Linked DNA regions of Homo sapiens. The protein of the gene in region 3 interacts with the protein of the main gene of each other region in a pairwise test. Each region holds a gene or a part of one and is shown on either strand. Other genes may lie near its edges. The genes, in order: TBC1D22B, ERRFI1, ACBD3 and TBC1D22A.

Region 1 (2,699 bases), on a different chromosome or scaffold from region 3:
CCTACATGGCGGCCATCTTAGTTCTTTCTACTCTGGTGGAAACACACTGAACAGGCAAGCCAGGAGGACACCGGGTCTCTGGTTCTGACTCTGATGCTGTCTTCCTTGGCCTTGGCTTGGATTTTCCTCTGCGAATGAGGGGGTTAAACTAGATATCTCCAAGTTTTCATCCAGCACTGAAATTCTAGTCTGTTTTCTACCCTCTATCAGATAACATACTTCTTTTAGATGAATGAAATAATCCATGTAAAGTGCTTCTCAAAGTGGTTGGCAAGTTAACTCTTTTTAGTAGTTTCATTTACCAAGTTACTCATTTTTGTAGTTTCCACAGTACCTTTCATAGATGGATGTCGGGTAAGTGTTTGCTGGTTGATCCTCTGCTGATGCCCTGCTCACCTCACAGAAGGCCTGACCACACACCTACTAGTATCAGCAAGAAAAACTCAAAAAGAGGAGACTCTTTAGGTTCCATGGACACATACAGGAGAAAAACCAGCAGATGGAGGAGGAAATACACCATTTATTTACAATTCTTTTCACTTTATCCACAATTTCCCATACAAACATAAAAACTAAAAAAATAAAACCACCACTTGGGAACACAAGTGTCTTTCTTTAATTAGTCCGGTTGAGGGAGGGTCTCAAGCCCTCTCACTCTATGAAGGAGACCACTGAGGCACACCGAAGGGGAAAAGGAAGAGGGTTGGGAAGAATGCCTGAGAAACAGCTCCAGATGAGAAACCTAACTCACACCGATGTGGTGGGGCCTCACTGGCAAAGAGACTTGAGGGTGTTACCCACCAGGGACACTGCTCGGCTTCCCAGGAGGATGACAGCTGCTGGCCCCCATCCCCCCACCCTCCACTACCAAATACCAAAACTCAAACAGGGGTCACACATCTCATGAGCTGTGTGGGGAGTGAAGGTGACAGTAAGGGATATGGAGTGCTGCTCTCTGAGAAGAGCCCCAAACCCGAGGGACACACAAGAAGCCCCTTTCCTTGGCACTGAGTCTTCAGTCACAGCTTCTGTCCGAATACAATGCTGAACTTGAAAACGTAAAAACAAAAGCCCTCCCCAGATTCCGGGGAAGGTGGGGATAAAAACACATAGAGAGGGCTTGCCCGCCTCTGCAGTCCCTTCCTGGGGAGGCTGCTAGGAGCAAAGGGCAGATGCTCCAGGAAAGTCTGGGGGTTGGGGGGCGGGGTGAAGAAAGGGGCGAGGAGGACTCTGAGACACTGATGCTTGGGATGGCTCCAGCTGCTCAGCTACTCACTTCAGCAGCCTCCCGTTCTACCCCTCACAGCAGGACACCCAGAACCAACCTGGAGGTGCTGAAGCCACCTTCCTGGCAACTTCCTCTGTGCTAGTGACCTAGATTGCTTTCACATGTTGATGCACATTATAAATATAAAATCATATCTGCTACAAAGAGGACATATATTTGTACATCTTTACCCATATACATAATAACACAATTTACACATAATATCTTGGAGTGGGTCATCATGGAAAAGGGGTCTGGAGAGCCCCTTCTGCCTCCCCTGCCCCAATCCCTCTTCAAGGGATGCTTATACACTTGGTCACTGGGGCCCTTCCCAACTAGTTTGATGGGGCTCGTCTGGACACAGAAATTCAGACATGTGACTAAATGCTGATGGGCATGTATACACATTCACACCCACACACACATGCAGACACCTGGTGAGAAAAGGAAAAATAAAATTCCTAGCCCTTGGGTGTAGGCCTCTTTCCAGAGTTACAAGCATCAGTGCCTCCTCCATCTAGAATAATGGTTTTAAAAAGCTACCCCTCACTGGCTCAGACTGGGGCAGAAGGGGAACGGCTAGGAAACCAGGAAGAGGGAAGAGGGGCCAGGAGTCTTTCGAAAATATAAGGCGTTTTTGACCTGTGATCAAATCAAACTATGTTCACAAAAAAAAAAAAGCAACGGTTATCAGTTGGGGCCTGTCCTTGTAGGGACAATGTGAGGTGAGACCCTGAGCCTTCCCCTTCTTTGTCCAGTTTCTTTTAAAGGGGCAGACAACCCTGTACCACCTTTTCTGTCCTCTCCCAGAACTGGGCCCATCCACGCGGCATGGAATACTGACAGTGGTCCAAGTGACACATCCAGAGACATGGAGTGGTGGATGCCAGAAAGTTAAGACCTGGGCGGTGGGTGTGAGCTTTGTACAACAGGAGTGGTTCCTGGCCGGGGTCCACGGCTCGCACAGTGGCCACAGTGATCAGACTGCCATCAGAGATGAAGGCAGTCTGGGTCCCCGGAGGAGACAGCACCTATCGGCGGTAGTGATTTGGGGCATCGGCAAACATGTACTTGAGTCTGTATGCCTCGGCGAGAAGCAGCCCAATTTCTTCGTTGCCCCAGTGTATTGTAGGTAGGTTCTGTAGCAGCATGAGGAGACCCTGGAATGCAAGAAAGGACTTTTATATCATACCAGACCGTAGACCATCAGACAAGTGAACCCATTCTTAGAGACCAAGGCCTAGAATGGGGCCCCTTCCTCCTGGCTCACACATCTCAAAGAGTCCAGCCTCCTTCCTCCCAAACAGTACACAGCTTTCAGTCCTAGTTCACCTCAGGAGGTCTTGAAAGCCTCTGCTGATTCTCTAGTCCACTAACACCTGTCTCTTTAAAAACATAAAAAACATAAATAGGGAATGACAACAATAAAGAT
Region 2 (7,755 bases), about 220 Mb from region 3:
AGACATGAAATGTTTTAGTGAAATGAGAAATAATCTATTGCCAGCAAAAGCAGACCTCCTACTGCACAGCCTGAGAGTTGCACAACAAATCACACTCACTTGGCAATGCACACAGACCCTCCCCTGACTTATTAAACCAGCCTTCTAAGTTACGGCTGCACTGGGCATGAAGCACCAGTGGATCCTGCTTATTTTTCCCAAGCTAAAAAAGTAATTTCAGAAGCCACTGTATTTTATGCTGTAGAACTAATACTCACTAAAACACAATGCTGAAACTAAGCAAGAGTTTCTACAGTATTGGCACCTGACTACCCCAGGGTCTAGCATTTATCTGGATTTTGTATTTCAGGGTTGGCCATGGGGAGACAAATTCTCCAGTTACTACTTGTTCAAGGAACAAACAGTAATATATGAAGATACTAATTTCCATTATCCTGTAAAAATCAAGTTCTGCAAGATTACTGGCTTCAGTAAAAGCCTGGGACAGCTTCCTCCCTCCCTTTTAAAGACAAGTTAAAGGTACATTCTTTACATCCTCCTTTGTGAAACACCCAGTAACTCATATCTTGCTTAGCTGCAAGGCATGGATAACAAAATAAGTACATTTTTCTTAAATTAGTAGTTCCTCAACTTCAGGACCGCCAATCCCCTTTGTCAGATGTTACAGGTCTGGAGTCCCTATAGCCCCCTTTTCACTTTCCTTTTTTATTATTCGTTATGTGTTAGTCAGCATCAATCTCTGCTGTCTTCAGATAGCCAAGTTTATTTATAAGTTTAGGTTTTTTTCCTTAGGCACCAGGATATTATTTGTCAACTATTGTGTAACACTGACCCCTTTTGGGGGCACGTACATATACACTCTTTAACACGATCTCATTCTCTCACTAAATATTAGTAAGGGATCAGTGCAAATAATATCTGCACAGCTGAGTGCTGGGCACTGTGCAAAGGCTGGGCACTGTGCAAATGTGACACATTTGCTGTGGGGGAGAGGTACACAGGTTTTTTTTTTTGTTTTTTTTTTTGCTCAGCAACTTCAAATCTATTATTTACAAATCTGTCACCTCCTACTAGACTAAGCTCAGGACAGAGGCTGTGTCTCAATCACCTTTTAACAATCAGTACCTGGAACATTAGTAGGTGCTCAGTAAGTGAATGTTTGCTGAATGAATGATTGTATAATACCATCTAATTATCATAATCAGTATCAACTCAATATACACATTGTGTAAGGCACAGGGTTTTTTTTTTTAAAGCTAAAAACTTTTAAAAAATACTCTGCAAGTGTTTATTATTATTTTCCCATTAGAAAGGAACACAGTGATAAGTAATGTTCTACAGGTTCAAGATTTCAGTAACAAAGTAGAGAAGGGAGATCCAATGACTGGTTCTCTGCATTTTACCCTTCCACAGTCAGCTGTTCTACCAGGCAGAGATTTTATGATAGGGTTAAAATATTATTTCAGATAGTCAAGCATTATTTTTCTTTAAATCAATCTCTCAAATATATGATAAAGAAAACATTGTCATTTAAGAATTCTAATTGAGAGGTCTTTTGAGGATTGGTTTTTCAGATTACTTCAATGAAGCAAATGTGTTATCTACCATCAAGCTATAAAAAATTTAGAAACCAATTTAAAAATACTGCTAGCCTCTCCCTCTGTGTACTTAGCCCAGTGGTTTATCAAGCTTTTTCTAAGCATTCTACAAGCACTGGCAAGACTATGAGGAAAGTATCTGTGGTAATATAAAAATGAAAGGCAAGATAGGAAGAATATGGTATTTAAGTAGTTTGAAAGCACACGTTTGAAGATCGCTCATCCAGATTACAGGAAAATGCTGCAGGGGATTCTGCAGGCCCAACCCCCACCTGTCTGCAAGCCAACAAGTACTACTAGTAATTACTGTGTGTCAGCCTCCTAATGCCATCTAAATCTTAGCTTTCAACAGAATGATTGTGTAACTATCGCCTCTGCAGAAATTGCCTTGGAATTCTAAACTTACATTTCAATGGTCACTTAAAATTATTTATATGTTCTAGAAAAAGTTATTTTTTATTCATTGTTTCCATCACCTACTTGTTAGCTTTCTTAAGAAAAAAATTTTTTTAGTATAAAAAGAATTGTGTTCACTAAGCCAGCTCACTTCTGACCACAATAGTGTCTTTGTGTATTCATAGAAGGTGACCTGCCTCTAAATTTCAATGGGGAATTGTGAATGGGCCATGTTATGAAACTGTCCGAACTTCCTACTTGCTAGCATGGGAGACGAGGGGGGCAATATAACTGCCATGTTCTCTTCTTTTGGAAAATAACTTCAAACTGTAGACTCAAAAAGGGCAATGTGCTATAGGTTTGGAAGGAAGCTTTTAAAAAAAATGTTTCTCAGATTGTAAACTGAGGGTATGAAACCACCTGAAACTTTCTCTCTCTCTAAAAACCTTCTAGTATTCAGCACAAATGGAAGCGGGGGGCGGGGGGGGGGGGGGCGCGGAGTAAATAAATCCATTTTACCAACCTCAAGCTAAAAAGAAACAAACTCTTCCCAAGTGATGTTTAATGCCAATTTTTCACATTTTATCTGTCTTACAACTCATTAGAGGAAAACAATTGCAAAAATGTACCTATGTGGGGAAATCAGTATCTAAAAAGTACAAGATGGGATTATGTTATGGAATCCAAGAATAGGAAAGCGAATGTGAATCCAGACAGCATGGTTTAGACGGGGACCCAAATAACCTTCAGCATAACTTCTCCAAACTTCATCAACTATTTTTAGCTTTTTTAGTGGGTCTAAAATGCAGTTAAATACCAAATTTCAGATGTGAACCACCTTTTCCTGTTAACTTGATTCTTTTCTAAATTCAACGAAAAAAGAAGCCCTAAAATCATTTGCTTCTTGAGGTTATCCTTTTATTAATCCACTTGTATAGCTTCAACTCATAGACAGCTCCTGAATCAATGACTCCAGCCTGGCTCAAGCTTCAACTTTGCATTTCCTATTGTCTGGTGATTATCTTTCCACTTGGATGGCCCTCTGGCATCTCAAACTCTACAAACCAAACTCCTCCTTTCACTTCATACTCCATTCCCCACTCCCCAAACCAGTTCAGGGTCTAAGAGGATCACACTTCTCAAGGCACCATTTTTAACCTGAGGCCATGTACATTCAATTGCCAAGTTCCACAGACTACTTTTACATGGTTTCTCAAATCTTACCCTTCCATTGACAGGCATCATTCTTCCTGGGGTCTGGCAATATGCAACCTATTCTACAACACTAGTACCAAGTCAATATTCCTTAACAACAGCTCAAGCTAAGATTTGCTGCTGCTCAAAAAACCTTCAAAGGCTCCTAAATAAAACCTCCTCAGCCTGGCAATTTAGGGCCTCCACAATATAAACCTAATCTATATTTTCAAGCGCGCTTCTATTTTCCCCAAATCTCTGTTACAATTCGATTCATCCTTTAAGGTCAGCTCTACCCTGCCTTCTCCATGAAGCCGCTCCCTTTCATGAAACACTGGAGCAGCGGTGCTCTGTTCTTGTGTTATTTTGTGCTGGGCCCCAATTCCCCTTCCACTCTTCAAATCATCTAGGACAGAACTGATGTCTGATTTATGCTTTCCCCCTGTAGATCTTGGCATCATTCATGTCTATTATTTATTAAATGGATACTGAGAAAATATCCATCTCATTTTTAAAAAGTAATGACATGAAAGATTCACATACACTGTGAGTCAGTGAAGAGCTCAGGGGAGAAGCAGATTTATAAAGGATAAAGTTAATGCGTGCTGGAGTGAGGCGACTGCCCAATAATAATGTAACAACCTTAGGATATGTAACAGGAAGGAATTTTTATGAAATTCATTTCCAGAATTCAAAGAAGACAGTTTGTAGACTGAGTAAAAATTATAAGCTTCAGTGGTTAACAGTGTAGCTTTCTAAACTGGTTTCTGTTACAGTATATTTACTTGAAGCAATTGGGGGGGTACTTTCTTAAAACAGTGTTTTGCCTTCTCTTAAAACACTATTCCTTCTAGACTGTGTTTTTGCTGCTGAATTTAAGGTGACTTTCATTTTTCTAAAAAAGTTACACCAAAAGCACACTGCACCTTCTTCATTAAGGTGAAATCATATGCCTTTAGCTTGAGGACAGTCTCTTTGAAACTGCTTAAAAAAAAAAAAAAAAGAAAAATGCAGGCTACCTTAAGGCAGTAACCTAGATATGCTTACCTGGCCACCAGATCTCATTAATAAATCTCAGAAGCCATCCATGGGAGGAGGAGGGGCACATTTTTGTCATACAACTCATCCAGTTCTGCCCAGTGCTTCCTTATTTAAGAGTGTGATGTAATTTCCTCCTTTCAATCTGGTTCTAGAACCTGATTTCTGTTTATTCAGGGTGATAAATGGTCTTTTCAGTTCCATTTAAGAATCACCTACATTAAGTACTTCCATAACCAAGGAAGATAATAAGGTAACTACATTTAAAGGCAAAATTTATAAAAGGAAACTGATTTAGGAATATGACAAACTCCATGATTTTAGATCCTCCCCAAATATACCAATCTCTGCATGTTTATTTTTTAAAATGTCTAAAATAATCACCTGTGAGGAAATTAAAACAAACAAACAAACAAAAAAACACCAATTTTTTTTTTTTTTTTTTGAGACGGAGTCTTACTCTTGTCACCCAGGCTGGAGTGCAATGGTGCACAGCACAATCTCCACCTCCCAGGTTCAAGCGATTGTCCTGCCTCAGCCTCCCGAGTAGCTGGGATTACAGGCATGCACCAACTCGCCAGGCTAATTTTTGTATTTTTAGTAGAGATGGGGTTTCTCCACATTGGTCAGGCTGGTCTCAAACTCCTGACCTCAGGTGATCCTCCTGCCTCGGCCTCCCAAAGTGCTGAGATTACAGGCGTGAGATACCACGCCCGGCCCAGATTTCATTTTAATAGCCTATGATTTAGGTAGGGGTAGGAAAAGAAAGAGGGAGGCAAGTTAAGAAAACTTCCTTAGTTGTACTCTCTACCATGGTAAGCATAAGTAGCCTTTAAATTAAAAACATAGATTACTTTTAAAATAATGCCATGTTTTAATGTAATTAAAATACTCCTGCATGAATTCAAGAAAAGCTTGATGGCTTCAGTAAACATTAAAATATAGTTCAGTGTGGCAAAGATGAACATTTGTGTCTGTGTTTGCAGCTCCATTCCTCAGAGGCTCTTAAACATGTCCAGAACATAATGGACCATTTGTAGGTGGTGAAATAGAGGCAACAGAGAAAATAATTTATCTTCAAACTGTCAAATAAAAAATAAATGACGTAATTTATTCAATAATTCAGAATGCTTTCTAGCTAAGTATTTTAAAAAATGGTAAACTAACAAAAAACCCATTCCCTCAACTACCATAATCCAGTCTTTCAACTCACTTAAGCCTCCCACACAATTTTAGTGTGACAGCAGAAAAGTAGGATAGCAGGAATACATTCTTTTGTCCTTTGTATTTCTCCTACAGAGTAGCACAATCAGTAACTATATATACACACAGAGGGGAGAAAAATATTATTTCTTTTTGACATATAACAATAGATTATTTCTTACTATAAAAGTGAATTCTAATCTAAAGACAACGAGCACAATGGTCTAATGATGGGACGCAAGTCTTTAAAACTTCAAATTTATTTAACAAGCATTTAAGTTACCCGATGGGTAACTCTAGATTGTTACAATTAATATAAAACCATTAATGATAACTAACATTCACTGGACATACAACTGCCAGGCAAGCATGGTTCTAAGTGCTTTATGTGTATGAACTCATTTAATCCTCTCTACAATGCCATAAGGTGGGCTACTATTATTACTCTCACTTACTTGAGGCACAGAGTTAAAGAACTTGCTCAAGGTCAAAACTGGTGAGCAATGGGGCCAGGACTTCAACTAGACAGCCCGGCCTCAGTGTCCAGGCCCTTCACCAACACACCACACTGCCTCTTCCTGTCCCTACGGCTTTTTAAACTGGCGAAGTAGGATCCGACTGACTATACTGCTCAACTTGTAAGGGTAGCACAGATCCTTTTTTATGGATTTACTGGTAATAGTTTTTCTTGGGTAACCTGTAGCCTATGAAAGTTCCTGTTTCACTTCAACTCCCTCAAATTCTCCTATTAAAAGTTATTAATTGTAGATCTGGCCTATGTATCCTCTAAAATGGGTGGGTTAAGGCATCAATTTGACATTCTATTACCACTTCAAACAACTATTTTGAAGCCCTCAGTCTTTAACGATCCACGGATGCCCCACCACAACAGAACTCTTTACAACATGGTTATTTCATATAACACAAGTCTGTTTTTACTCGTAATAAGCGGTTACTACATATACCCAACGGGCCTCCTTTTAACATGCTTTCACAGCATGGATCCCAATGATGGCATTATAATCACACTGTATTGTAAAATCCGGAATTTAACAATAGCATACCTTATATTTGTAAAGCACTCAACAAGTTACAAAGCACCTTCTTACACATTATCTCACTTGATCCCCACAACATCCCTGTAAGAAGAGGCAGGGATTAGAATCTCCATTTTGCAGATGAGGAAACAAAGTGAGGTTAAATATCTTGCTATAAGCAAAAGGGCGATCATGGCTCTTCTGTACTATAATCCAGCATTTTCCCCACACTTTCACTACCTCTCCACTCTATAGTATCTTCATTTTAGGCAACAACCTCATTTCTCCTTGTAACATTCTTGTTTATAAATGGAGAAACTGAAGCAAAAGGCTGTTAAGTTAAATGCTCAAGACCTAAGTGCTAGTCAATAGCAGAGGCAGGAACAGAAACTCAACTCATAGTGCTCATTCAGCTCAAAAATTCTTAGAGGGCAAGGATTAATTCTTTTCACAAATATTTATCAAGTGCTTATTCTGGATTAGACACCATGTGAGGTGAAAAATAGAGATGGCTGCTGCCTGAAGAAGCCTTCCATCTAATGAGGGAGGAAGAGAATAGCCAAGCAAGCAAACAATTTTAGATGGCGATACCTTCCAAGGAAACAAGCAGGGTACAGCAGCAATAGGATAAGGAGGCAGAGGAGCATATATTTACACAGGTGGTTTGGGAAGGCCTCTCTGAGTAGGTGACTTTTAAATGGAAATCTAAAGGCTGAAAAAGAGGCAGCCCTGATAAGAGTCAGAAGACAATTCTACTGAGCGAATAGTTGTTTAAAAAACAATCTGTAACTAGTCCAGTTTCACATCTGGGGTATTGAATAAGAGCTTTTGGATAATGTCTTCCAATCCTTACCTTCCTATTGTTTCCAAGTTGAAAAGGGCTCCATTTCTGTAGCCAAAGCCCCACATTTTTTTGTTTGTTTATTTTTTAAAGACAGAGTCTCACTCTGTCACCAGGCTGTAGTGCAGTCGTGTGATCTTGGCTTACTGCAACCTCTGCCTCCCAGGCTCAAGCAATCCTCCCACCTCAGCCTCCTGAGTAGCTGGGACTACAGACGTGTGCCACCATACCCAGCTAATTTTTGTGTTTTTTTGTAGTGACAGGGTTTCACCATGTTGCCCAGGTTGGTCTCATACTCTTGGGCTCAAGCCATCTGCCCGCCTTGGCCTCCCAAAGTGCTGAGATTACAGGCCTGAGCCACTGAGCCCGGCCAAAAGCCCCACATTTTAAAGACACATTCATTGAGACCTGGAAGAGTGGTCTTTTCGTAATATTGCCCAATTTTATG
Region 3 (5,318 bases):
ATAGTTTTGGGGTTATATTGGTGTTGGGAAGATCACTAGTGAAAATGGCAGGGGTTCATTTCTAGAGGTAAGAACCTTAATATCCTTGATCTTAGTTCTAATATGTCCCTCAAATGAAAGATGGCATTCCCTGTACTTGTACCATTCCTAATCATAAAATGATTTGCAGCTAAAACATTTTAGCCTCACAGCAGTGAAGCTTTATCATTCCTAAGAATTGTTCATTACATGAGCGTCACTTCATCCCATTTAAAGATTTAGCTCACAAATTGTATTTGTCCATATGCCTTAGAAGCTACTGTCCTACCGTGTCTTGTATTTCATATGGTAGAAGAGTCTGAGTTTTTTGGGTTTTGGTTTGGTTTTTCTTCCTTAGGTCTTGAAAGGTAGACAGAGGAGTTTGCTTTCTCTGAAGAAGCATGGATGGTAACACATCCTCCTGTTTTAATTCTCCATTTTCTTCATTGTTTACAGGTCCTAAACCTTGGCTTAAATTCATAAAAGATGCCTTTTCATCTATCCCAGTAATCTTTAGTTTTATAGATTTAAAACAAAATTTGAGTCTTGAATCAATGGACCAGTCTATTTCTTGGATGTCAACAATAGTGTACATTTTGGATGGTTCTGTATTTCTCATTTGCATGTGAAACATGCTTAATTATAGGTATTTCTGTGGTTAAGTAAATCTGGTTTTGACCTACCTTTATAAGAGTGCCATCTGCTTTTTTAAAATAAACTTTTAATTTTAGAATAGTTTTAGATTTACAGAAAAGTTACAAAGATAGCACAAAGAGTACCCATATACCCTGCACCAAGTTCCCTCTGTTGTTAGCATCTTACATTGTACTGTGGTGCACTCATCACAGCTAATGAAACAATATTGATACATTGATTCATTAATTAACTAAAGTCCATATTTATTCAGATGTTTTTAGTTTTTACCTAATGTTCCAAGATCCTTTCCAGGATGCCACATTATAGTCAGTCATCATATCTCCTTAATCTGCTATAGACGGTGAGAATTTCTCAAACTTACCTTGTTTTAAATTCCTGATAGTGGCCATTGACAAGCATCACTCAGTGTGTTGCCAGAATTCACTCTGCCATGTTATAAACCTGAAAATCCATGCCTGTAGTCCCAGTCTCTTAAACAAACAAACAAACAAAAACAACAACCATAAACCCGAAAGTCTTGTCTTCTGTGCTGAATACTCCCTTGACCTCTTTGAGCTGGTTTGTATTAAATATGTTAAACTGTGACTTCGAAGCTGGTTCATAATTTTCTCATTCCTGTAGGTTTCTAGAGGCATTTTTTTTCCTAACCTCATAGCATTACAGTTCAAAAAACTCTTAACCGGGGCAAACCTTTCAGAGCCCATTTTTTGCCACTTAGATCATCTCTGGGTTAAATTGGCCTAGTGAAAATAATTGAATTTTCAGAGTATCTCTGAATGCCTATCTCTCTACTATGATTTTTTCATTTTACTGCTTATATTTAAGATATACAGAAAGCAATAGTCCTCACAAATCATCTTCCATCTTTCTAAAATGGGGAGGACTCATATTGGTCAGAAGGAGGATGATGAGAGCAACATTTTCATGTTACTCAGATGAGTGAAATTCCTGAGGATGAATTAGGAATTGAATGGCTATGGAAAGGGGAAAATGGGACCTTGAAATAGGAATGGTAGTAAGCACAGAAAGAGATAGGATGCTGACCACTGCTACCACTAGATGTTCATCACTGGGCTCCCAGGGCTCAGAACAGGGTTTGGTGTATAGCACATACTTAGGTATTTGAATGAATGAGTGAATGAATGAATGAATGAACGAACTAATAAATGCTCACATGCACATAACTTGTTAAATGGTTCAACAGAATTCCCAACAAGAGCAGTTTCTCAAAGAAAGGATAGGCTGGGCACGGTGGCTCACGCCTGTAATCCCAGCACTTTGGGAGGCCGAGGCAGGTGGGTCACAAGGTCAGGAGATTGAGACAATCCTGGCCAACATGGTGAAAGTCCATGTCTACTAAAAATACAAAAATTACCTGGATGTAGTGGTGCACGCCTGTAATCCCAGCTACTTGGGAAGCTGAGGCAGGAGAATCGCTTGCACCCAGGAGGTGGAGGTTGCAATGAGCTGAGATCACGCCGCTGCACTCCATCCTGGGTGACAGAGCAAGACTCTGTCTCCAGAAAAAAAAGAAAGGATAGATTTTAATTGCCTGATGCAAGTGTGGTTTTCCTGAATCTGTTCATTGACTTGTCTCTGTTCTTACAGAAAACATCGGTTGTGAAGAGAAAGCCAAAAAGAATGCCAACAAGCCTTTGCTGGATGAGATTGTGCCTGTGTACCGACGGGACTGTCATGAGGAGGTGTATGCTGGCAGCCATCAATATCCAGGGAGAGGAGTCTATCTCCTCAAGTTTGACAACTCCTACTCTTTGTGGCGGTCAAAATCAGTCTACTACAGAGTCTATTATACTAGATAAAAATGTTGTTACAAAGTCTGGAGTCTAGGGTTGGGCAGAAGATGACATTTAATTTGGAAATTTCTTTTTACTTTTGTGGAGCATTAGAGTCACAGTTTACCTTATTGATATTGGTCTGATGGTTTGTGAACTCTTGCTGGGAATCAAAATTTCCTTGAGACTCTTTAGCATTCATACTTTGGGGTTAAAGGAGATTCCTCAGACTCATCCAGCCCTTGGGTGCTGACCAGCAGAGTCACTAGTGGATGCTGAAGTTACATGAGCTACATGTTAAATATTTAAAGTCTCCAAAATAAAACACCCCAACGTTGACCTTACCCGGCTGATGGTTAGCCCCTTGCTGCCTGCTCCATGTGTCTTATGAGAGCCCGTAGTTACAGTGTCCTCTAATTTGAAATCCATAAGTTAACAAGTCTATATCAGGTGCAGCTGGCTTTGATTAAAGGCCATTTTTAAAACTTAAAAACTCAACACCTCACAGATTATAATAGAAAAAGAAATGGCCTCAGTTTGATCTCGTTCAGAATGACCCAGATTGTTTCTGCTTTGGGTGCAGCTGTTTAGTTCAGAGTTATATTACAGAGAATTATTTTCTGAGATAATCTTAAACTAGAATGTTCAAAACTAATTGATAATTGAAGTATCAAGATACGTAGAACACCTCAGAGATTTTTCTTCAGGAACTTCCACAAACTTTGAATCCTTGTATCTTTATTTGGTATTCATACTACTAGTAGCAAAATACAGGTTTTTTGTTTTGTTTTGTTTTGTTTTGGCTTCATAGAGTATCTCAAATTGAAACTTTTCTGCACAAAGAATAAAATTAAGGATTTTATAAACTCAAATTGGCACCTACTGAATTAAAATACATAAAATCATTTAAATATAATTCAGCATATGGGAAGTAACATTGCACTAATATGGAAATCACTGCCAGAGACAGTCTATTTTCTTTTAATTTGTTACTACTTAGTCACAAACCCCACATTATTCCAGTTTGGAATTACTTATTAAGGAGAATTGGAAATACATATGCCCATGCTTAAATTTTATAGCTTTAATTTGTGTTATTTCTTTATTGACGGGAAGAGGTACATCTTTTTTTCCTTACTGAAAACAAATATGGATTAATTGCCTCAAATTTGTATAAGTGATTGGCTAGTGATTCTTGTTTTCAGAAGGGAGAGTGGTATAGATAGAAAATGACAAAGATGGCAATATACACTTAATGTTGTTATTGTATGTTGTTACTGAAGTACTTAGATTTTTAAAATTTCAAATCCTAAATCACTTCTTGTAGGAGGGTTTTCATTAACTGCAGTATATACAGTTCACTACATATGGGTTGTTTGAGTTTTTTGTGTGCTGTATTTCTTTCTGTTTTTTAATACCTGGTTTTGTACATATCTAACTCTGTTCTCTTTTGGTTGTTCAGAAACTGGATTTTTTTTTTCTTAAGCAGTGCTTAATTTGTGTTTTTTAATTTTGATTCAGAAGTAGTCCCAGCTCATAGGTGTTCATACTGTTACATCCAGAACATTTGTCAGGCTCTCTGTCAGCTTTCATGTACATATGGTATAGAAACCATGGAGTTAGGCACTTCCTGGATTTTTTTTTTATGAGAAAAATACTGTATTTAAAATGTAAAATAAACTTTTAAAAAGCAGGCACTAATATATATTTCTTCCAGCCTTTGATTACAAATTTGTCCTTGCACATGTTAAGATGAATTATCTCCTAAAAATATCATTGTTCTTGGGAGCAGTGTATGTTACTTTACATAGCAGCGGTTCCTGTCATGTGTTCATGTCAGAATATTTTTGGTTTTAAACTTTCTTATTGCCTTTGGCTGTTGATTAGTACAGTACAAGTGCGATTTCAAAAAGATCTTGAAAGTAATATATTTAATCAATTAAAATGTTTATCTGTAACTTGTTGATGTTTCATTAATATAGTTACTCTCTGAAGCATTAGTACAGTATTTCAACATTTGGGTAGGAGAAAAAGAAATGTTTCAAACATCTTTTTTGTTTTAAAAGGCTCTAGTTGAAAAACAACTCTTTCTGGCCAATTATTTAGTTTTACTATTAATTACCTTAGTGAGTTAAAATAGATTTAAATTTTTCCACACTTTTAAATGCAAAGGCTAGCACTGATTTTTCTTATTGAAAATGACTAGGTTATAAAGTTGTTTCTCTACACTACCATGTATGTAGTGTGTTCCATTAAATATGTGGACCCCACACACTTTAATGGATCTCCAGAGGCAGAGCCCTCGCTTGCTCAGGGTGGATGATTGCAGAGCACTTGTGGGGAAGTGCGCGATCAGTGTGATGTGGAGTCCCAGAATGAGGTTGCTACATCCAGATGACCCCACTGATAGGCAGGGTGACTGGCATAATTTTTTTCTTTTGAAATCTGGGGAGACAGATGAGGTGACCATCTTGGTTATTTTTGCTGTGTGGGATACCATAAAGCCAGACTGAAGACGCATTAAGGAGAGCAGTTGAGGTAAGCACATCTTGGAAAGTATGCTACCGAGTCTTGACCATCTATCTTTTGGAGCAGGAGAAGCAACCGGTTCAAAATAATAAATAATTGCTAATAATTCATTAGGGCTTAAAGTTCAACAGTCAGGGGCCGGGCGCGGTGGCTCACGCCTGTAATCCCAACACTTTGGGAGGCCGAGGCGGGCAGATCACGAGGTCAGGAGATTGAGACCATCCTGGCTAACACGGTGAAACCCCATCTCTACTAAAAATACAAAAAATTAGCCAGGCGTGGTGGCGGGCACCTGTAGTCCCAGCTACTCGGGAGGCTGAA
Region 4 (8,137 bases), on a different chromosome or scaffold from region 3:
TGAGGCAGGAGAACTGCTTCAACCGGGACCCAGGAGGTGGAGGTAGCAGTGAGCTGAGATCATGCCACTGCACTCCAGCCTGGACTACAGAGAGAGACTCTTGTCTCAGAAAAAAAAAAAAAAAAAGGAGGAAAACAAGGCCAGGCATGGAGGCTCACGCCTATAATCCCAGCACTTTGGGAGGCTGAGGTGGATGGATCACCTGAGGTCAGGAGTTCGAGACTAGCCTGGCCGACATGGCGAAACCCCATCTCTACTAAAAATACAAAAAAACAGACAGGCGTGCTGGTGGGCGCCTGTAATCCCAGCTACTTGGGAGGCTGAGACAGGAGAATCACTTGAACCTGGGAGGCAGAGGTTGCAGTGAGCCAAGATCACACCACTGCACTCCAGCCTGGGCAACACAGTGAGACTCCATCTCAAAAAAAACAAAAACAAAAACAAAAACAAAAAAAGAAAGAAAACAATCATGGGAAACAATTGAAAGAGCTGCCAAAGCCACAGGAACCTGGCTAGGATCTCCACTAGCACTGTGCTTGCATAGGTGTGGACTAAATAAATACGCAGCTAGTGACCAATCACCACTACTGATAGGAAAACGGGCACCCCTCTGTGACTCCTCCTTCAGGGAAGAGTTCCAGCCTGCCACCTGAAAGAGCAGCACTGCCAGAGGCTTGAGCCACAAGACGGATGGGAGACACAGAGGCTTCACAGGCCTTCCTGGTGCACCCAACCTCTCCTTCTTCTTCTGCCCTCTTCAGTGACAGCCTCGAACTCTCCAAGACTCCAACTTCACAAAGGTAATACAGAAGCTGCTCTCAAAAGTGCCTAAGACACAGAATAGCATCAAAGTCAGAGGAAAAGGAAAGCTGGTGTTCGGTATTTCAGGTTCACACAGAAGAAAGCTGGAGACTGTATTAGTCTCCTGTGGCTGCCATAACAAATTACCACCAACTGAATGGCTTAACACAACAGACACTTATTCTCTCTCAGTTTTAAACGCCAAAAACCCAAAATCAAGTGGTCATCTGCAGGGCCATGCTCTCTGTCAAGTCTCTAGGTGAGCATCCTTCCTTGCCTCTTCTAGCTTCTGGTGGCTGCCAGCAACCCCTGGCTTTCCTTGGCTTGTAAATGTACTATTCCAATCTCTGTTTCTGTCTCCATAGGGCCATTTCCCTGTGTGTGTCTCTCTGTATTCAAATTTCCCTCTTTTTATAAAAATACTAGTTGACGAACTAAGGCCCACCCTCATCCAGTATGACCTCATTTTACCTTGATTACTTGTGCAAAAACCCTATTTCCAAATGTCACATCCATAGTTTCCAGATGGACATAAATTCAACTCAGTATAAGGACAAATTACCAAGAGCCACAGCCTTCAATCCAAAGGTTGAGTCACTGCTGTAACTCCACACAGCAGCTCTGTTATTCTTACATCTAAGCTGATTAAGAATTAGAGTTTAGACTGATGAGGAACCAAAACCTTAAGACCTAAAAGTAACACATAAAAGTTACACTGTCATGTGGCTCCTCTTCCCTGGACTCTTATGTTCTACAGCATTTGTTCCTGTCACTACCAGGACCTCCTACCCACCACCATTCCAGAATCTTCACTCACCTTGGACCCTGACACTGGTTTTGTTGAAAGGTCTTACTGTTCTCGAATCAAGCACGGTCCTGTGGAGTCGAATAGGGTCTCCGGCCACCTTTGATGACTCCCTTCATTCTCAAAGCCACTGTCTGAGCTGTCAGTAACTCACGCTGCTAACCCCCAGATCACTCTTAAAAGTAAACTTTCCTTTTTTTTTTTGAGACAGAGTTTCGCTCTTATTGCCCAGGATGGAGTGCAATGGAACGATCTCGGCTCACTGCAACCTCCACCTCCCAGGTTCAAGTGATTCTCCTGCCTCAGCCTCCCAAGTAGCCAGGATTACAGGCATGTGCCACCATGCCCAGCTAATTTTGTATTTTTAGTAGAGACTAGGTTTCTCCATGTTGGTGAGGCTGGTCTCAAACTCCTGACCTCAGGTGATCTGTCCACCTCGACCTCCCAAAGTGCTGGGATTACAGGCGTGAGCCGCCACACCTGGCCAAAAGTAAACTTTTCTAACTGGATGCAGTAAATTCCAAAGTTTATCATTCAAACACTCAAACAATAATATTTATTATGAAACAGGAGTACAAACCATTTTACTGTGTTTATGAATGATTCTACTCAGACTTATCTTCGTAACACAATTCATAATTTTCAGCATTCCAGACTTCAGCTTTGGAACAGAACTATGTTCTGAAATCTTGACGTTTGCTTATCTCTGATCTGTTTTCACCAGTGGCTGATTTTATCCTAGGTACCCTCCACGTAATGTCTCATTCCCTAGGGCCCTGGCATAGCTCAGCGCCACAGCAATCAGACAAGGACTCTGGAGCTCTGGAGCTGTATAGCATCTAGGGTGTACCCAGGTCATTCCAGCCGAAGAAAAAAAAAAAAAAAAAAAAAAAAAAAAAAAAAACTTCCTGCTAACACAACATAGGAGGTGGTTTTGACACCAGCAAGCAGAAACATGGAAACTCACAGGGAAACTCTAGTCCTCTTCTATGCTCAAGGCAAGAGCCGCAGCCCTCAAGAGACCACAGGCAAATCAAGTGGGTCAAAAACACCACACCCCCTGCAGAAACTGATCCACCCAGCAGACGGGGGGCCTCAGCCCGGCCAGCTTCCGGACTCCACCAAACTTCACAGCATGACCCGAATCAGTTCCTTCCAGCCTCCCCAAGGAGCCCAGGAGTTTCTCGGAAAGAAGCCTGCCAGTGTCAGGAAAAACGCCAATAGCTCCTCCTCGTCCTTGCAAGCCTCGATCCTACGTGCAGCCACTGTCACCCCCAGACCCCACGCTCCGACCTCCGAGCCCCCCAACGCCCGTCACACCATCCAGCAGTCTCCTCAGAGTCCAAGTTGCCCTCTCCAGACCCCCGACTCCACCCGCAGCCCAGGAGGCCAACGCGGCCACCTGACCTCTGACCCCTGACCCCGACCTGGCCCTCCGCGGCACACCCACCTGCCCGGGAGCTTGCTGTTGCTGCGCTTCCAGAATTGCTTCCTGGCCCCGTCGCTGGCCATGGCCCCTCCTCATCCCTCAGACCCGCGGCCCAGACACCCCGAGTGCACCCGGCCCTCCCCTAGCGGCCCTTTCCTGTGCCCCGGGTGGCCCCTCACTGCTCCCGGGACTCCAGAGCCTAGAGCCGAGAAGCTCTTCCGCCTCCTTCCGGAAGTTGTGCCTACGCGCGCCCGGAAGTCCCGCCTAAGTCCCTGGTGGCGAGTGACGCAGCACTCCGAGCGCCCGTCGTTATTAAAGGGCGACGCCGCGCAACGCACGTTACACGCATCGCGGAGGGAGCGGAGGTGGTTGGGTTTCTGAGTTTGAGTCTGTCGCTCCTGGCTCTCCCGACACAACAGCGGCGCCCACCTGCCCGCAACGGACTCCCAGGAGCCTCGAGCTCCTCATTTCCAAAGCTGAACTGCCCCGTGTCTGATTCCGATTTCTCTTGAGCGCGTTTCGGAGCCGGCCCAGAACAGAGGGAAGCCAGACACACCATACCCGGCCCAACAGTGGCAGGGCGGCTGCGGGTGCTGGTCAAGCTGGGTCACCCGGCACTGAGTGACGATCAGCAAATACTCAGTGGACGAAATATTTGCAGTGCAGTGAGGTGAGGGGCATAACCGCGGAGCGTATTCGAAGAGATGAGAGAGACTGGGGATTAGGCCAGGCTTGAAGGGAAGAATGGTTTGAGCACCGAGGACAAGAATTAATTCCCCAGGCCTGGGTTCCAGCCTTGTGCGGCTATCACGTGCTTGAAACCTGGCTAGTCCGGAGTGAGATGCGCTTTACGTGTAAAATACAGGATTCCAAAGACGTCGTATAAAATAATTTGTATATTGTTTGCATGTTAGGTAACATTTTTAATGTATTGGATTAAATAAAATGCATTAAAATTATTTTTACATTCCTTTTACTCTTTTTAAAATTATTTTTACCTTTTTTATTCTTTTTTTCCGGGGGGGACTGGGGGTGGGTGTCTTGCTATGTTGCCCAGGCTAGTCTCGAACTCCTGCCCTCTAGTGATCCTCCTGCCTCACCCTCCCCAGTAGTTGGAACTGCAGGTGCACACGTTATGACTAGATCTTTTTACTGTGTGTGTGTGTGTGTGTGTGTGTGTGTGCAGAAAATCACTAAAAAAACCGTGTCTGGTTTGCATTACATTTCTGTGCTTCTTAGACCAAAGATTGAATGCTCAGGGACTGTCATTTCAGACTGGAGCTTTAGTGTATTTGGAGCTCCTGCCAGTTCTCTTTTAAAACAAAAATCTAAGACATATTTTCTGATTAAGAATTTCCCTGGAGGCTGAGGCAGGAGAATAGCGTGAACCCGTGAGGCAGAGCTTGCAGTGAGCCCAGATCGTGCCACTGCACTCCAGGCTGGGCGACAGAGCGAAACTCCGTCTCAAAAATAATAACAATTTCCCATGCCTCTTCATTTACTGGTAAGTAACATTGACTTAGTACTTACTATGTGCAAGGCGTCCTACTCTCCTAGAATCCTCTCCTAGTAGGGCTCAGAAGGCCCCAGGGGTCTCCTCCTGACAGAGCCCTGACAGCCTCAGACAGTGAGGTCCCCTACAGACAACACTGAGGACCATGGCGGTTCTTTCCAGCTCAGTCTGGCTTATTGCAAGAACCAGTGAGCGAGGTGACAGCAGGATTAACCTGATGGAAGGGGAAAGGAAGGAAGAACTGAAACAATTGACAGAGGAAAAACTGGCAGCACTTAGTGACTGGTTACACCTTAGATCCGGGTGCTTTTTATAGCTTACCGTATACTTTGCTAGCTACTGTTTTCAGGCGAAGGAGTGAGGCTGAGATTGACTTGAAGGCTTCAAAACCAGCTAAGCAAAGGATTACTAGGATCACAACAGAAACGTGAAGATGGAAAAAGAAAGTCTGAGTAGAAGGCCAGTTTTGAAAGCCAAAGTAATACAGATGTTGGAGTCTACATATGGGACCTAGGAATTGGGACAGATTCTCAAATCCCAGAGGTATGGAATGGAACATTTTTTATTCATTTTTGCAACAAGTATTGAGCAGCAATGCAAATTAAAACTAAGGACATACCATGTTACACTTAACAGATTGGCAAAAACTTAAAAACCTGTCTTTACCAAACTTAATAAGGATGTGGATTTGTGAGCAGAGCAGAACTCTCTTGCACTGCCAGTAGGAGTGTACGTTCATTCACTAACTTTGGATGGCCACTTAGCAATTTCTAGCAAAGATACTCTATAACTTAGCAATTCCACTCTTGGTATGTGCTCTAGAGTACCTTGCCTATGCGTGCAAACACAAGAATGTTCAGTGCAACGTTGCTTCTAGTGGTAGTTGGGGTCTGGGGGAGAAGCAACCAAAATGCCATCTATGGCAGAATCGATAATCTACACAGTTATGCAGTAGAATACCATAAGTTAGTAAAAATGAATACATTAGTTGCATACATCAACATAAATGAATTTTGCAAACTGTGGGGTTGTTTTTGAAATGGGGCTTACTATGTTCCCCCGGCTGGCCACAAAATCCTGGGCTCAAGTGATCCACCTCAGCCTCCTGAGTAGCTGAGTACAGATGCAAGCACTACCGCACCTGACTCCACAGTGTTGAATGAGAAAAAGTTGAATATTAATTCACATGGTATGATACCATTTAGTACTATTTTCTTTTAAAGGATGAGAATGCGACCAGGTATGGTGGCTCATGCCTGTAATCGCAGCACTTTAGGAGGCTGAGGCAGGAGGATCCCTTGAGCCCAGGAGTTTGAGGCTGCAGCAAGCTGTGATCATGTCACTGCACTCCAGCCTTGGCGATAGTGCCAAACCCTATCTCAAAAAAAAAAAAAAAAAACCAGAATGGTAAAAGATAAATTCAGGAGGGTGGTTGCCTATAGGTACAGGTGGGGACTGTGAACAGGAAGGAATTCATTCATAGCGGATCAATTGTGCTATTATGCTTTGTTTCCTAAGGCAGATGGGCTATATTCAGGTGTTGGTTATATTCTTTATGAGTTTTTACATGTATAAAATGTTTCATAATACATTAAAATATAGTTATTGAGTTTGAACTGTGCTATGCACTGAGCTACATTGAACTACATGATAAGGCAAACAAAAGTGCAGCAGGCCAGGCACAGTGGCTCACACCTATAATACCAGTACTTTGGGAGGCTGAGGCGAGAGGATCACTTGAGACCAGGAGATCAACACTAGCCTGGGCAACATAGGGAGACCCCATCTCTGTGAAACTTTTTTTTTTTTCTTTTAGCCAGTCATGGTGGTAAACACTCTTAGTCCTAGCTACTTAGGAGACTGAGGCAGGAGGATCACTTGAGCCCAGAAGTTCAAGGCAGCAGTGAGCTAGGATCACACAACTGCACTCCAGCCTAGAAAACAGTGAGACCCTGCCTCAAAAAAACAAACAAAAAAAAATTGGGATAGTATTTCAGGATGGCTGGATTTGCAATGCCATTTGGGTTCCTCGGGAAGTGTTTTCTGCTTTCTTTGCTTTCAGATGGCCTGCTCCGGGCTTAGAATATCTCTCACAGGACCTTACTGAGTGAGCTGCCACACTCCCACTTGGTGGGTTCTGCCTCCTAAGTTTCCTGGTGCTGTACCGTCCATAGGCACCGAGCCTGTGCCCCAAAGTAAAAAGCTGACTGTTCTATCTGTATTGGTTTCCTAAGGCTGCTGTTGGCAGAATGCTGCAGACTTAGCGGCTGAAAACAATACACATTTACCCTCCTACAATCCTGGAGGTCAGAAGTCCAAAGTCTTAGCACTTCACTGCACTAAACTCAAAGCGTCAGCAAGGCTGCCCCCTTCTGGAGGTTCTAGGGGAGAGTCAGTTTCTTACCTTTTTCAGCTTCTAGAGGCCACTTAACATTCCTTGGCCGACACTCCTTCCTCTGTCTGGAAAGCAGATCACTCTAATCTCTACTGCCATCATCACATCATCTTCTCTCCTTCCGATTCCTCCTAGATCCCTCTGACCTCACGTCAGGCCCACTGGATAATCCGGTCCAGGCTGATCTCCCCATCACCCGGCCCTTAGCTCAATCACACCTGCAAACTCCCTTTGGCCATTTAAGGTAACATTTGCAGGTCCCAGGATTAAGTCCTGGTATATCTTCAGGGGTTCATTATTCAGCCTACCACAATAATAGACGGCATATAGCAAAGGTCCCCAGTTTCACACCGCGAGAGGCAGGCGTCGTCTTCACTGCCCCCTTCCCCAACTCCTTTCAGCCATTTTTATATTACAGGGACTAGCAACGTGCCATTTCCTGACACTAAGTCAGGATGAGTTAGGGTGCTGTTGGTTGCAAGAATGACAAAGTTCAGCTCAAATTAGCTTATACTACAAAGGGAATTAGTTGGTTAATGAAAAAGCCCAGAAGTAGCTCAGAAGGTTTGGAGAAGGGCTGATACAGCAGCTCAACAATGACCCAAGGGGCCTGTCTCCTTCTGTCAGTCTCTTAAGTCTTTGCCAAGGACAACTTCCCCTTGAGGTCACAGGATGCCTCTGTTGGGCCCCTGGGATCATGTGCTTACCTCTAGTCAGGATGCTAGAGAGCAGAAATACTGTGAACTAGTATCAGTCCCCGGGAAGGGAGCACTATACATTGCTTACCAATTCCAGGAGAGCACACTTAAACACCTCACCAATTTCTGCTGAGTTTCCTAAGACTGCCAGGAGGCTTTGCACAAACCCAGCAGCCAGAGTTCTGCAAGGGTTCTTGACTCTGGCAGGGGCTCAAAGCTGACCTAGCTGCTGCAGCTGTCATACCTCCACCCTCTGTATTCTTTTTTTTTTTGGGACGGCGTCTCACTCTGTCACCCAGGCTGGAGTGCAGTGGCGCAATCTTGGCTCACTGCAAGCACCACCTCCCAGGTTCACGCCATTCTCCTACCTTGGCCTCCCAAGTAGCTGGGACTACAGGCGCCCGCCACCACGCCCGGCTAATTTTTTGTATTTTTAGTAGAGACAGGTTTTCACCATGTTAGCCAGGATGGTCTTGATCTCCTGACCTCGTGATCC

The links.
Region 1: the proteins of ACBD3 (region 3) and TBC1D22B interact in binary tests that used the Homo sapiens proteins (3 or more experiments, as listed by UniProt).
Region 2: the proteins of ACBD3 (region 3) and ERRFI1 interact in a two-hybrid assay, tested with the Homo sapiens proteins (one study listed by BioGRID).
Region 4: the proteins of ACBD3 (region 3) and TBC1D22A interact in binary tests that used the Homo sapiens proteins (3 or more experiments, as listed by UniProt).

What each region holds. Positions count from the first base shown.
Region 1 is NC_000006.12:37,330,772-37,333,470, reverse strand, and holds the end of TBC1D22B (TBC1 domain family member 22B), read right to left. Parts: intron 2,428-2,699; coding exon 2,299-2,427; 3' UTR 501-2,298; downstream 1-500. UniProt on the Homo sapiens protein: May act as a GTPase-activating protein for Rab family protein(s).
Region 2 is NC_000001.11:8,015,900-8,023,654, forward strand, and holds part of ERRFI1 (ERBB receptor feedback inhibitor 1), read right to left. Parts: intron 4,175-7,755; exon of another isoform or gene 1-4,174.
Region 3 is NC_000001.11:226,143,787-226,149,104, reverse strand, and holds the end of ACBD3 (Golgi resident protein GCP60), read left to right. Parts: intron 1-1,036; exon of another isoform or gene 1,037-1,102; intron 1,103-2,283; coding exon 2,284-2,495; 3' UTR 2,496-4,426; downstream 4,427-5,318. UniProt on the Homo sapiens protein: Involved in the maintenance of Golgi structure by interacting with giantin, affecting protein transport between the endoplasmic reticulum and Golgi. Involved in hormone-induced steroid biosynthesis in testicular Leydig cells.
Region 4 is NC_000022.11:46,757,768-46,765,904, reverse strand, and holds the start of TBC1D22A (TBC1 domain family member 22A), read right to left. Parts: upstream 3,256-8,137; 5' UTR 3,119-3,255; coding exon 3,057-3,118; intron 2,164-3,056; exon of another isoform or gene 1,619-2,163; intron 1-1,618. UniProt on the Homo sapiens protein: May act as a GTPase-activating protein for Rab family protein(s).